3 linked regions of the Homo sapiens genome follow. The protein of the gene in region 2 purifies or fractionates together with the protein of the main gene of each other region. This does not show direct contact. Each region holds a gene or a part of one and is shown on either strand. Other genes may lie near its edges.

Region 1 (3,748 bases), on a different chromosome or scaffold from region 2:
ATGGCGAATTCCCATCTCTATAAAAAATACAAAAATTAGCCGAGCGTACTGGTGCACGCCTGTGGTCCCAGCTACTCAGGAGACTGAGATGGGAGGATGGCTTGAGCCCGGGAGGTCCAGGCTGCAGTGAGCCATGATTGCACCACTGCATTCCAGCCTCGGCGACAAAGTGACGCCCTGTCGGGTGCAAAAAAAAAAAAAAAAAAAAGAAAAATCCATACTAAGGAAATATATGGATGTGTGCCCAACTAGGATATAACCCTTCTTGTCATCAGTGGTCCCAACTGCTTCAACACTGTTGAGCAAGTTTTATGGGATCCAGCCTGACACATTTCAGGGACCCAGAAATGAATTTACAATTTGAGTCCTGTCAACCTCTTCAAAAACATTCAGTAGCCAACAAGACATGTACTGATGCAAGATCTTTAATAAATATGACTTCCTCTCTCTCCCAAAAGCAGTTATCTGGACAAGCAGTTTAAGCATCTCCAGTTTTTAGCTAGGGGAAATATGACTGAAGCCTTACTTTTTTGAGTCCATATCCAATTTGTAATAGAAAATAAAAAAACAGGATTGAAAAGCCAGTTACCCATGAAAAGCACACTCAAGAGCATTCCTATGGGGAGTCTGCCTCTTAAGGAAACATCAATACAGAGGACACTAACTTTGTAACGCATCCTAGGGCTTTAATCCTCACAGTACAGTATGTAAATCAATAAACGTACCAATTACATAGCTGTTACAGAACTTACAAAGTATACTGATCCGCAATTTTAAAAAAATCTAAGCCTACATTCCCTTCACCTAAAAGCCTCTCAAAGCAAATTCCAGCTTAAACGCTGGGTATCTACACTTGCAGAAAAATGTTCAAAGTAATGCACTACTAAATTTAGTTAATATTTAGTCCATGTAGTGAGTCAGAATGAGATTACCACTTAATAGGAATGAAATAGTTATACAATGTTACTAACTTCGCCACCTAAAAAGAAACACTATTTCATTAGTGGCAAACCTTACTTTTGTATAGCGATGGGGGCATTTGGAGGCAGGAGGCTTCTTCAGGTCAAGGAAAGCATCTCCACTTTCTGTTTCACCCATACTTCTCCTATCCATGGCTCCTTGGTCTACAATGCTCTGCACCTGGAAGATAAATCGGCACAAAATTGTCACCGAGAACAGTAAGTTTTCAGAAATCTTGGCTGTTTCTTCAGAAGCTGAAACTTTTTAATCTCTCAAAACAGCTAGTGTTAAAAACAAGTCCCCACCCCAAAATTATGCTATAAATTAGAACTTGGAGATAGAATCATTGGTACTCAGTTCTCTTTCCTAGTATCCTAAGCATCAACATGGTAAAAAGTAGAAGGTGCCCAATTCAAGGTATATAACCTTTAAGCAGCTTTAACACAAGAGAAACCAAGATTAGTAGCTGCCACCCATGGGGATCTTTCAAGACTGGTGGGGAAGTTTCCCGGAGTGGGGGCAGGTAGAAGACTGGTTAGGCTGGGAACCCGCGAAGTCTGTTGGAAAGTGCCTGTCACTTGCCAATGGACGGCGCCAGCTGCCCCTTGTTATCCGGCGATCAGGGACTGGGGACGGGGCCCGAGCGCCCCTCGCCAGGCCAGCCGCACCTGTGGCCATGTCAGGGGCGCCGATGGCAAGGAAAGGGCGAGCACCGGCTTCAGCTCCGAAACTTGGCTTCCCCGGGCCGCGACCCCAACCCGCAGCCCCTCACGCAGGCCCGGGCCCAGCGGCCTCCTTCGGAGGAAGGGCGGAGACCGTACTCACTGAGGGGCGGCCGGCCGCAGGGAGGAGGGAGGCCGAATCTCCCGGCCCGGGCGCTTCAAGCTGGAGCTAGCGCAGGCCCGCAGCCGTCCTCCCCGGCCCGGCGGCTCGGTCCCCGCCAGCCAGCCCGCCGGCTACCCGCCGGCCGCCTTGCGGGCCTCGCGCCCCTGCCCACCCCCTGCGGGCGCCCCGGCGCCCGCGCTCACGCACGCGACCCCGGGAGCAATGCGCCCGCGCCCCTTCTACACCCGGGAGCACCGGGCGCGCGGTGCCCCGGACCCAGCCGCCACCGCCGCCGACCCTTACTCGGTGCCTCCGCCGCTCGGCGGCCCTTTGCCTCGGCCGCCGCTCCCCTCCCCGCTGCCCGCACCGGTCCCAGCGCCGCTCCCCGCAGCCTTCGCTCTCGCGCCCCCACCCCGACCGGCTTGGGCTGTCTCTCTTCAGCCGCCGTAACTGCAGCCCGGCCCTCCGCCCCTCCTCTTCGGCCCCCTCCCCCTTAATAACTCCCTCCACGCACCCTGGCCCCGGCGCCGCCTTCCCCGCCGCGCGCCCGGATGTGAGGTGGCTGCAGCGGTGCCGGGCGAAAAAGAAGCATCGCCGCGCGCTTCCCGGACGCCAGCCCCTGCGCGGGCCGGGGGGTGGGAAGGTGGTGGCGGCGAGGAGGAGGCCACGGTGGGGATAGCGGAAACCCGCTCCCGTGCGCGCAGGCGGTCGCCGTGGGCAGCCCAGAGGCCACCGCCGCCGCGTTCCCACGCGCGCTGCAGGGCAGAGCGGACGGCACTTGGGACCCGCGACTCGCGGCACGCCACTCTCCCGGAGGCGGTGGCTAGATGGGGCTGGGCTGGCGGCTAGCACGGCCTGTGGCGCGACGACCGCTGTATTTGCATGGTTCGCATAGGCAGAGAACCGTGGGGCTTCGGCAGTGGGAATTTGAGATAGGAGATTGGGGTCTTCCGAGCCTTCCCAGTGCGGGTTCGAACCTCAGCTGTTTTGCGAGTGGCGTGATCTTAGGCAAAGCTGACTTAACCTAAGTTTCGGTCGTGTTTCTAAAATGGCCTCTGTAAATCTATGAGGCTTATGCGCGAGTACTGGTTGCTGCATTAAAAGACAAACTTGTCACGATTGGCTTTGATAGCGATAAAGGCGACTAACAAATTCATTGAAATGTTGTTTCCCTCCGGTAACCTGAATCTGTCCTTAGCCTGCACAGAAAGGGGAAGTGCGAGTGGAGTTGGGGAAATGAGACGGCGAATGTCAAGTGCTTACCACGTAGTGCAGACTCAGGCTGACAGGGGGCCACAGAAATGCAAATATGTGAGCAGTGTGGGTAACTGCATCCTGGGGAGGAAGTCCTATGTGCTGGAATACCACAAGCACCCATTTCTGCCCTGTGGTACTGCGCAGCGTTGGTGTGAAGCGATACATAGGCGTGAAGTCCCGAGAACGCAATTTTCCTGGTTAAAGGACAGCAACGTCTACATTTCTTCCAAGAGGCCTACTTTGTTGGAACTTCACTTCACTTGTGAAATTAGGGTGTTGGGCAGTGAGTGACCACTAACTCAGCTCCCTTCTTGTGAATCTTGGCAACAGAAAACTTTTCGTTTGTATTACTGAATAAAGTGTGTTTCTTACAAACTGTTTTTTTACAGGCAAGAGGCAGAGGGAAACACTTGCACATCAGGCCTGAGTTTGCATTCTCATCTCTGCCACCTCCTACAAGCTATGGAGAGTTAGTCTATTGATTCTTAGTTTTACCTGTGAAATTGCGAAGATGATATAACCTGCTCATGGGGCAGTTAAGATTAAACAGGATAAGGTGGGTAAAAAACCATATATAACCCATAAAGCTGCTGAGCCTTTTTAAGCCTATACAGAGACACGTTGCAGGTGATAATACAGATGTTATTATTTTAACAATCAAGCTGTTTTTGGAATCCAAATTCTTCCTAAAGCTGTGGGAAACAGG
Region 2 (3,648 bases):
TATACCTTAAAAACAAAGTATACAAATGGCAGAGTAGAGCTAGAGGATAAAATCAGGATGAGATTCTGTGATGTACTGAGGAACTAATTAAGAATTTAAAGGAGACACACATATTTTAAAAAGAAAATAGTGGAAATGGAAAAGACAGATTGAGATATAGGAAGATACTGGATAAAAAGCCACTGAAGCAGTAAAACCAACTGGATTACCATGTGAAACACTAAAAATGTGACCAATAATTTTGCCATTATTATTATTTTTGAATGAGTGATATTTTATATATTTATTATTTTATTATTTTTATTTATTTATATTTTTGAGACAGAGTCTTGCTCTGCTGCCCGGGTTGGAATACAGTGGTATAATCTCAGTTCACGGCAGACCTGACCTCCCGAGTTCAAGCAATCCTCCCACCTCAGCCTCCTGAGTAGCTAAGATGACAGGCGTATGCCACTATGCTCAGCCAATTTTGTTTATTTTTTTGTAGAGGTGAGGTCTCACTATGTTGCCCAGGCTGGTCTCAAACTCCTGGACTCAAGGTATCCTCCTGCCTTTGCCTCCCAAACTGCTGGGAATACAGGCATGAGCCACTACACCTAGTTTGGCTATTATTATTTTTACTGCTACTATTACAAGTCTGGCAAAATATAATAAAGTTCTGAACTAGGTACTGCAGATGAAGAATGTGAAGTCTGTTTGAAGGTATGAGAAAGAAGAAAATGGATTTTCAGCCTGGGCACTAATTGAGGGTGGAATGGCAATGAAACCACAGTTTCTTCTCTGACTTTTTTAGTCGAACTTTCTCAAAAGCTCCCCTTTTAGCTAAAAAGCTCTATTTCAGGTATGGACAAGCTGAATGTATTTCCTGGAGTCTCCCAAATTATCTTGATGTGAAATTCTGTATATAGAACTAGTTCGATTGGGTACAAACAGCATCTTTTTTCCTTAGGACTCCTTAATCCTCTTCTCTAGGCACTTCAAGTGGGGAAAAAAACTGAGAAGAGAAGCATGTTTCTGCTCTTTTCACTGCACACACACTTATCTTCTCTCTATCACAATGCTGCTGCTTGTAGAGCTCATTATGTACAGTGCCCAAGCTAGCCACTGAGGAAAGGAGACAACAATGAAGATATAGTCCACGGGGGTTACACTTATGTAAGATAGACAAACATTTAATAAACAGATCATGGGCCATAGTTTCTGTAAAGGGTTTTTATAAATAAAGTTTACAGCCATGCCCAATTTATGCATTGTCTGTGGCTGTTTTTTTGCTACAGTGGCACTGCTGAGTGGTTGTAACAGATTCTGTGGCCCACAAAGCCAAAAATGTTTGCTAGCTGGACTTCATAAAGAAGTTTGTCAAGCTCTAAAACAGGCCACTAATTAATTTTATGTGATAAGTGTTTGAAAGAGGAAGCTGGTTAGTATGAAGTGTCAGGGGAATTACCCTGAAAAAGCGAAGGATGAGCTAGACAAAGGAAAGGTCTCAAAGGCAAGGCTAGGAGTAACAGCATTATGTAAAAGACCTGAGGTGGGAAAGAGCACAGTGCATACCACAAACTGAGAGAAGGTCAGTGTGGCTTGAGTACAATTAGTGTTGTGTAATGAGATCAGAAAGGCAGACACAGATTAGATGATGCAGGGTCTTAGAGGCCACAACATAGATTTTATTTCTTAATCTACAGGACAATGAGAGGCTATCAAAGGCTTAGGTGAAGAAGGGTGGTATGAGTAAATCTGTGCTTTTAAAATATTTCTGTTTTAAGGGAAATAATGGGAGAAGGGGTGGACAGCGAGAGATTTAAGACTAGTGAGAAGGCAACAAGGGATCGAGAAAAGGAGATGACAGCTTGGATCACAAGGATGGAAAGAAGAATAAAGAACTGAGAAATATATAGGAAGATGAATTGGCAGAACTTTTTGACTGATTAAGCAGAAAAAGCTAAGGAAGGACAGCTGACAAATATGATTATTATAACACAGCATATATAACAGGCTGGATGGCTAAACTGGGTACACGAGGTGAGTACAATGGAAGGCAGGAGGAGGAGGTATGGGAGAAAATTAGCTCAGTTTGTTTAAAGTATCTAAAAACAAAATGAATATGCCCACAAAGAGTTGATAGACAGGGCAGGTGTGGTGGCTCACGTCTGTAATCCCAGTACTTTGGGAGGCCAAGGCAGGCAGATCGCTTGAGGTCAGGAGTTTGAGACCCGCCTGGTGAACATGGTGAAACCCTGTCTCTACTAAAAATACAAAAATTGGCCAGGCATGGTGGTGGGCGCCTGTGGTTCCAGCTACTCGGGAGGCTGAGGCAGGAGTATCGTTTGAACAGGGGAGGCAGAGGTTGCAGTGAGCCAAGATCATGCCACTGCACTCCACCCTGGGCGACAGAGCAAGACTCCACCTCAAAAAAAAAAAAAAAGTTGATACACTGGCCAGCAGAAAGTAGAAAAGCTGGGATCAATTTTTTGGTGAGGTCTCAAAAATGAAAGTCTTAGTTAAAAAACAAAACAACAAAAATTGGATAATAGTATTAAACCTTACATACATTAACTTTTAGGTCTCGGGTAAAGGGACATAGAAAAAGGGGTTAACCATAGGAGAAGAGAAAGAATACACAGGGAAAAAGAATGTTAAAAAGACCAAAAGCCGTAAAAAGGATATATATCTGCTTTACCATTTTGCCTGAGACTTTGCTGCTAGGTTTAACTGAATCTGAGCAAATAAGACTGCAAGTATTTTCATTCTGCACAGGTGCTCAGTATAAATATGGATTCCAGCTATAAAATGGTCTCAAAATATGACCACTGAGTAAAGTTCTAAATCACTTATGTAAATCTTGTACCCAGATCTTATATGTTTTGTTGTGAGGCAGAGTCTTGCTGTGTCCCTCAGGCTGGAGTGCAGTGGTGTGAACACACTCACTGCAGCCTTGACCTATGGGGTTCAAGCAATCCTTCCACTTCAGTCTTTTGAGCAGCTGGGACCACAACTGTGGGCCACACAGCTAATTTTTAAATTTTTTGTAGAGACGGGGGTCTCCTTATCTTGCCCAGGCTGGTCTCAAACTCCTGAGCACAAGCAATCCTCCTGCCTCAGCCCCGCAAACTGCTGGGACTACAGGCATGAGCTATGGTGCCCAGCCCTTAACTTGCATTTTTGAAAGTCATCACAAACTTCAGGACTGTATATAACATTCCCATAAAAATCAAAAATTAAACCCATATGAAACAGAATTCTCAACACTTACTTTTCAAGCTCTTCCTGAGAATGGGCAAATGTACAATTTGTTCCTCGTGGACAACCCCCTTGCTGTCGCAAATCTCGGCACATGCTAGTCTTGTATTTGCTGTTTGGCTGAGGCTACAAAAATGGGAACACATTCAATGAGTGGCAAGGTGAAGATTCCATTTGTTATTCACTCTAGGAAGTTCAGAACTTTATAATTACACCTTTAATTCTTTTTCACATTAGACAAGTAATTCTTGTGCTGAAACAACTAATATTCCATTGTTTCCTGTTGTGAGTTATGTGACATAACCCTGAATTGGCACTTCAGATATTCCTTCTGAAGATTATTCGAAACTGGTTCAAATGTTATGTCCATTTATTCATTAGTTAACAGAATGCCCAGAAAAAGAAAAT
Region 3 (3,648 bases), on a different chromosome or scaffold from region 2:
CTGGAGGAGGTGGCAAGTAAGCAGCACACAAATGCCACTTCCTCAGTGCTTCCCCACTCCCTGAGTAACCCTCACCAGCCCCCTACATCAGGAACACTGAGACCCCACAAGCGCGGCCTTCTGAAGACACACAAAGCAGGTCTAAGGTAGATCTGGGCTGGGGACCACCTCAAAACGGAGTCCCTCCCCCAGTGGTTGGCCGGGCCCAGGAGGTAGGTGCCACCTTGGTCTTCAGGTCATAGCGTTCTTCCTTGTGCAGCCCACTGTCCACCACATGCACGATGTCATTGATTGTGATGGAAGTCTCAGCAATGTTGGTGGCCAAGACAATCTTGCGCACCCCAACTGGAGGCTGCTGGAATATGGCCTTCTGATCCATCATGGGGATGTTGGAGTGCACTGGTGGGCAAGACACACACCAGTTATGGGCACTGCTTCCACCAGAATTCCCCCCTGGAATGTGGGCAGGGCAAGGATTTTGACCCCATTTTGATGAAACAGGCGCAGATAAACACTATGCCCAGTGAAAAGTGCCACAGCTTGGTCAGAAACCGGGGCCCCTGGAGTCCCAGTTGGGTCAGTCCCTAGGACAGAGGTCAGGCTGGTTTCCAAAGGTCCCTGGTCCCTCCGCCGGGGCTCTCACCTGGCAGGATGAGGTACTTGCTCTCGTGCATGCCCAGGGCCTCCTGGAGGCGCTGCTGCACTCCTTTGATCTCCTGCCACCCAGGCAGGAAGCACAGGATCCCACCTGTAAAGGAGCCCTGGGGCATGAGCCAGCTGTTGCTGCAAACGTGGCCAGGGCTAGCATGGGACAGATGGGGAGGCACCCACCTGGTTCCCCGCGAGCATCGATGTGCAGAACCAGATCAGTCACAAGGTCCAAATCGAGTGCGCATTCATCCTCAGACTGGGGTGGGGGAAGAGAGGCCACAGTCACAGCCCCGGGGTAAGGGGTCATGCCAAGGACACAGCCACCTGACTCAGTGAGACGGAGCCGCTTGACATCAACTCCAATCCTCACGTGTGCCACGCAGGCAGGGTTAGTCCCCAGTTTCTATCAAGGAAACCGAGGACTGGGGAGGGTAACTTGCCCCAGGCACCAAGCCCCAGGGCCAGGGAGGAGGGGCATCCACGGAGGAAAGGCCAGGAGCCTTGGGTGGGATGGGGGTGTCCCTCACCTCATGGTGCCGGTGCCGGTGCAGGTACTGGTGCTTGCCCAACTTGGCCAGGATGTCCTCTAGGTAGTGCTCCTTGACTGGGTACATGAAGCCAGGCACCTTGATGACGGGGCAGCCACCAAAGTATCGGGAGAAGCGCTCATTGTCCCCTGTGGCACTCATGAGCACCAGCCGCAGGGCCGGGTTGAGCCGCTGCAGGCCCTTGAGCAGGATCAGCAGAAAGTCTGTGTTCACGTCCCGCTCATGCACCTCATCCACGATGACGTGGCTCACGCCCTCCAGGCTGGGGTTGCTCTGCAGCTTACGCAGCAGGATACCCACAGTGCAGAAGAGCAGGGCCCCGCCTCGGGATGGGGGCTTACTTTCCAACCGCACCTGGAAGCCCACATTCCGGCGCAGGGAGGGGCCCAGTTCGTGGCTGACCCGCTGTGCCACAGACACAGCAGAGATGCGGCGAGGTTGGGTGATGATAACATTGCAGCGGGCACCTCGGCCCTCGGTCACATAGCGCTCCAGCAACAGCTGGGGGATGCGCGTGGTCTTCCCACAGCCCGTGTCCCCAGAGATGACCACCACCGGGTGCTGCTCAATGGCGTTGAGGATGGTGTCCCGATGTGGGTCCACAGGTAGCTGGGGGGCCTCCTGCCAGACCGGCCCTCGCCGCCGCCACAGTTCTAGCAGACTCTGGCTGAGACGTACCTCCTCTGCTTCCAACAGGGGCACATAGGGCTTGCCTGTGATAGGGTCACTCAGAGGCCCTGAGTCCTTGCCCAAGGGCAAGATGTCATCACTCTGCAGCCGGAGTTCTGGGGCGATCCATGAACTCTCCACAGGGTACTGGAGGGCAGGGAGGCAAGCAAAACAATGAAAAAGAAATTCCTCATTCACACACAACCAGCCACTCTGCAGGATTCGCCTGGGTCAGATGTTGTGGCCCAACCCGCTGGGCAGAGGATTAATTTAGTCCATGACTGCCCCGGGATCCTTGTGGGCAAGACTGGGCTGTTCAGGCCAGGGGGATCCCAGGCCCCAAACTCAGTGAAGAGAATGGGGAGGTACTACTGCCTGTCGCAGGTGGAGGCCTTCAGTCTGGAGAGATGGAGGCAGACTACAGGGAGCAGGGGTGGTGAGGGATGCAGGGCCTCTTACATGGTTCAGGAAGGTCTCTATCTTGCGGAGGATGGGCTCGGGCACCTGGATGGTGCATGGTCGGCGCTGGGTCTCACCCAGCTCACGCAAAGAGGCCAGGTTATACATGGCGTGTGTAAGCGGTTCGTTGTTCCTGTCCACCAGGCCCAGGCTCTGCAGGGGGACATGCAAGACTCAGTCTATGCTCTGGGGCTCCCCAAAAACCAGCCCAGACAAGCTCAGGAGCTCCAACGCATAAGTTGTGCCAAGTAATCTCTAAGAGATTTTGGATTTTGGCTGACATGGTGATGGAGGGAGAAATTATGAACTAGGAAAATGTTAACTTACCAAAATAAACGTTTTAAAAAATGAACTAAAGTTAATTCAGGCCGGGCGCGGTGGCTCACGCCTGTAATCCCAGCACTTTGGGAGGCCGAGGCAGGCAAATCACCTGAGGTCAGGGGTTCGAGACCAGCCTGGCTAACATGGTGAAACCCCATCTCTACTAAAAATACAAAAATTAGCCAGGTGGGGGGCCGGCACCTATAGTCCCAGCTACTAGGGAGGCTGAGGCACGAGAATCGCCTGAACCCTGGAGACACAGGTTGCAGTGAGCCGAGATCATGACGGTGCACTCCAGCCTGGGCGACAGAGCGAGACTCTGTCTCAAAGAAAATAATAATAAAGTTAATTCAAGAAAAGCTAAACCTGATGTGTCACAGCAGAACAGCCCTACGTCTGGAGAAGGCCCTGAGGAGAAACCACTCACTGTGTGGCTACAGCCCCCCCAACACCACAATAGGCCACTGTCACCTCTGTGAATTCCCAACATGTACCCTCAGACCAGCCAGGCCAGGCCCTCGATGCTAGAACGCACCCCACAGACTCCCTCTTCCTTTGCTGCCTCATCAAAGCCTTCCTCCCCTAATCCTTCCATCCCGCCTCCCAATCCCTACATGGCACCCGACCCATCTGTGACCCCATCATATACAGATGCACGTGGAATTTCCTGTAAATGTCGATTATAATGCAACTTGATCAAACAAGCCACTGGAAGGAAAACACTGTGTCTTACCTCCCTACATACCTAAAGCCACCTCACCAGAGATAAAACATAGCATTCCAATACCTCACGCACATGGGTAAAACTAGTCTTGTGTTCCTGTCACCTCTAATGGCTGGACTCTGCTCACCCTTCGGAGCCCAGATCAAACACTCCCTCCTTAAAGAAGTCTTCCCCCAACAGGGGCCAACCCCCTGCCTCTGGGCGTGCTGGCACCATCAGCTATAAGGACCTAAAGGACAGGAATCTGGTCCTCATACCACAGGAGGTGCCAACACA

What was found.
Region 1: the proteins of RC3H2 (region 2) and EIF4ENIF1 purify together in Homo sapiens (affinity purification with mass spectrometry, with the first as the bait; one large-scale study listed by BioGRID). This does not show direct contact.
Region 3: the proteins of RC3H2 (region 2) and DHX30 purify together in Homo sapiens (affinity purification with mass spectrometry, with the first as the bait; 2 studies listed by BioGRID). This does not show direct contact.

What each region holds. Positions count from the first base shown.
Region 1 is NC_000022.11:31,487,606-31,491,353, forward strand, and holds the start of EIF4ENIF1 (eukaryotic translation initiation factor 4E transporter), read right to left. Parts: upstream 2,238-3,748; 5' UTR 2,089-2,237; intron 1,952-2,088; exon of another isoform or gene 1,639-1,951; coding exon of another isoform or gene 1,543-1,638; intron 1,141-1,542; coding exon of another isoform or gene 1,114-1,140; coding exon 1,018-1,113; intron 1-1,017. UniProt on the Homo sapiens protein: EIF4E-binding protein that regulates translation and stability of mRNAs in processing bodies (P-bodies). Plays a key role in P-bodies to coordinate the storage of translationally inactive mRNAs in the cytoplasm and prevent their degradation.
Region 2 is NC_000009.12:122,874,218-122,877,865, forward strand, and holds part of RC3H2 (roquin-2), read right to left. Parts: intron 3,367-3,648; coding exon 3,254-3,366; intron 1,152-3,253; coding exon of another isoform or gene 956-1,151; exon of another isoform or gene 1-955. UniProt on the Homo sapiens protein: Post-transcriptional repressor of mRNAs containing a conserved stem loop motif, called constitutive decay element (CDE), which is often located in the 3'-UTR, as in HMGXB3, ICOS, IER3, NFKBID, NFKBIZ, PPP1R10, TNF and in many more mRNAs.
Region 3 is NC_000003.12:47,844,532-47,848,179, reverse strand, and holds part of DHX30 (ATP-dependent RNA helicase DHX30), read right to left. Parts: intron 2,481-3,648; coding exon 2,328-2,480; intron 2,016-2,327; coding exon 1,179-2,015; intron 908-1,178; coding exon 832-907; intron 749-831; coding exon 644-748; intron 400-643; coding exon 224-399; intron 1-223.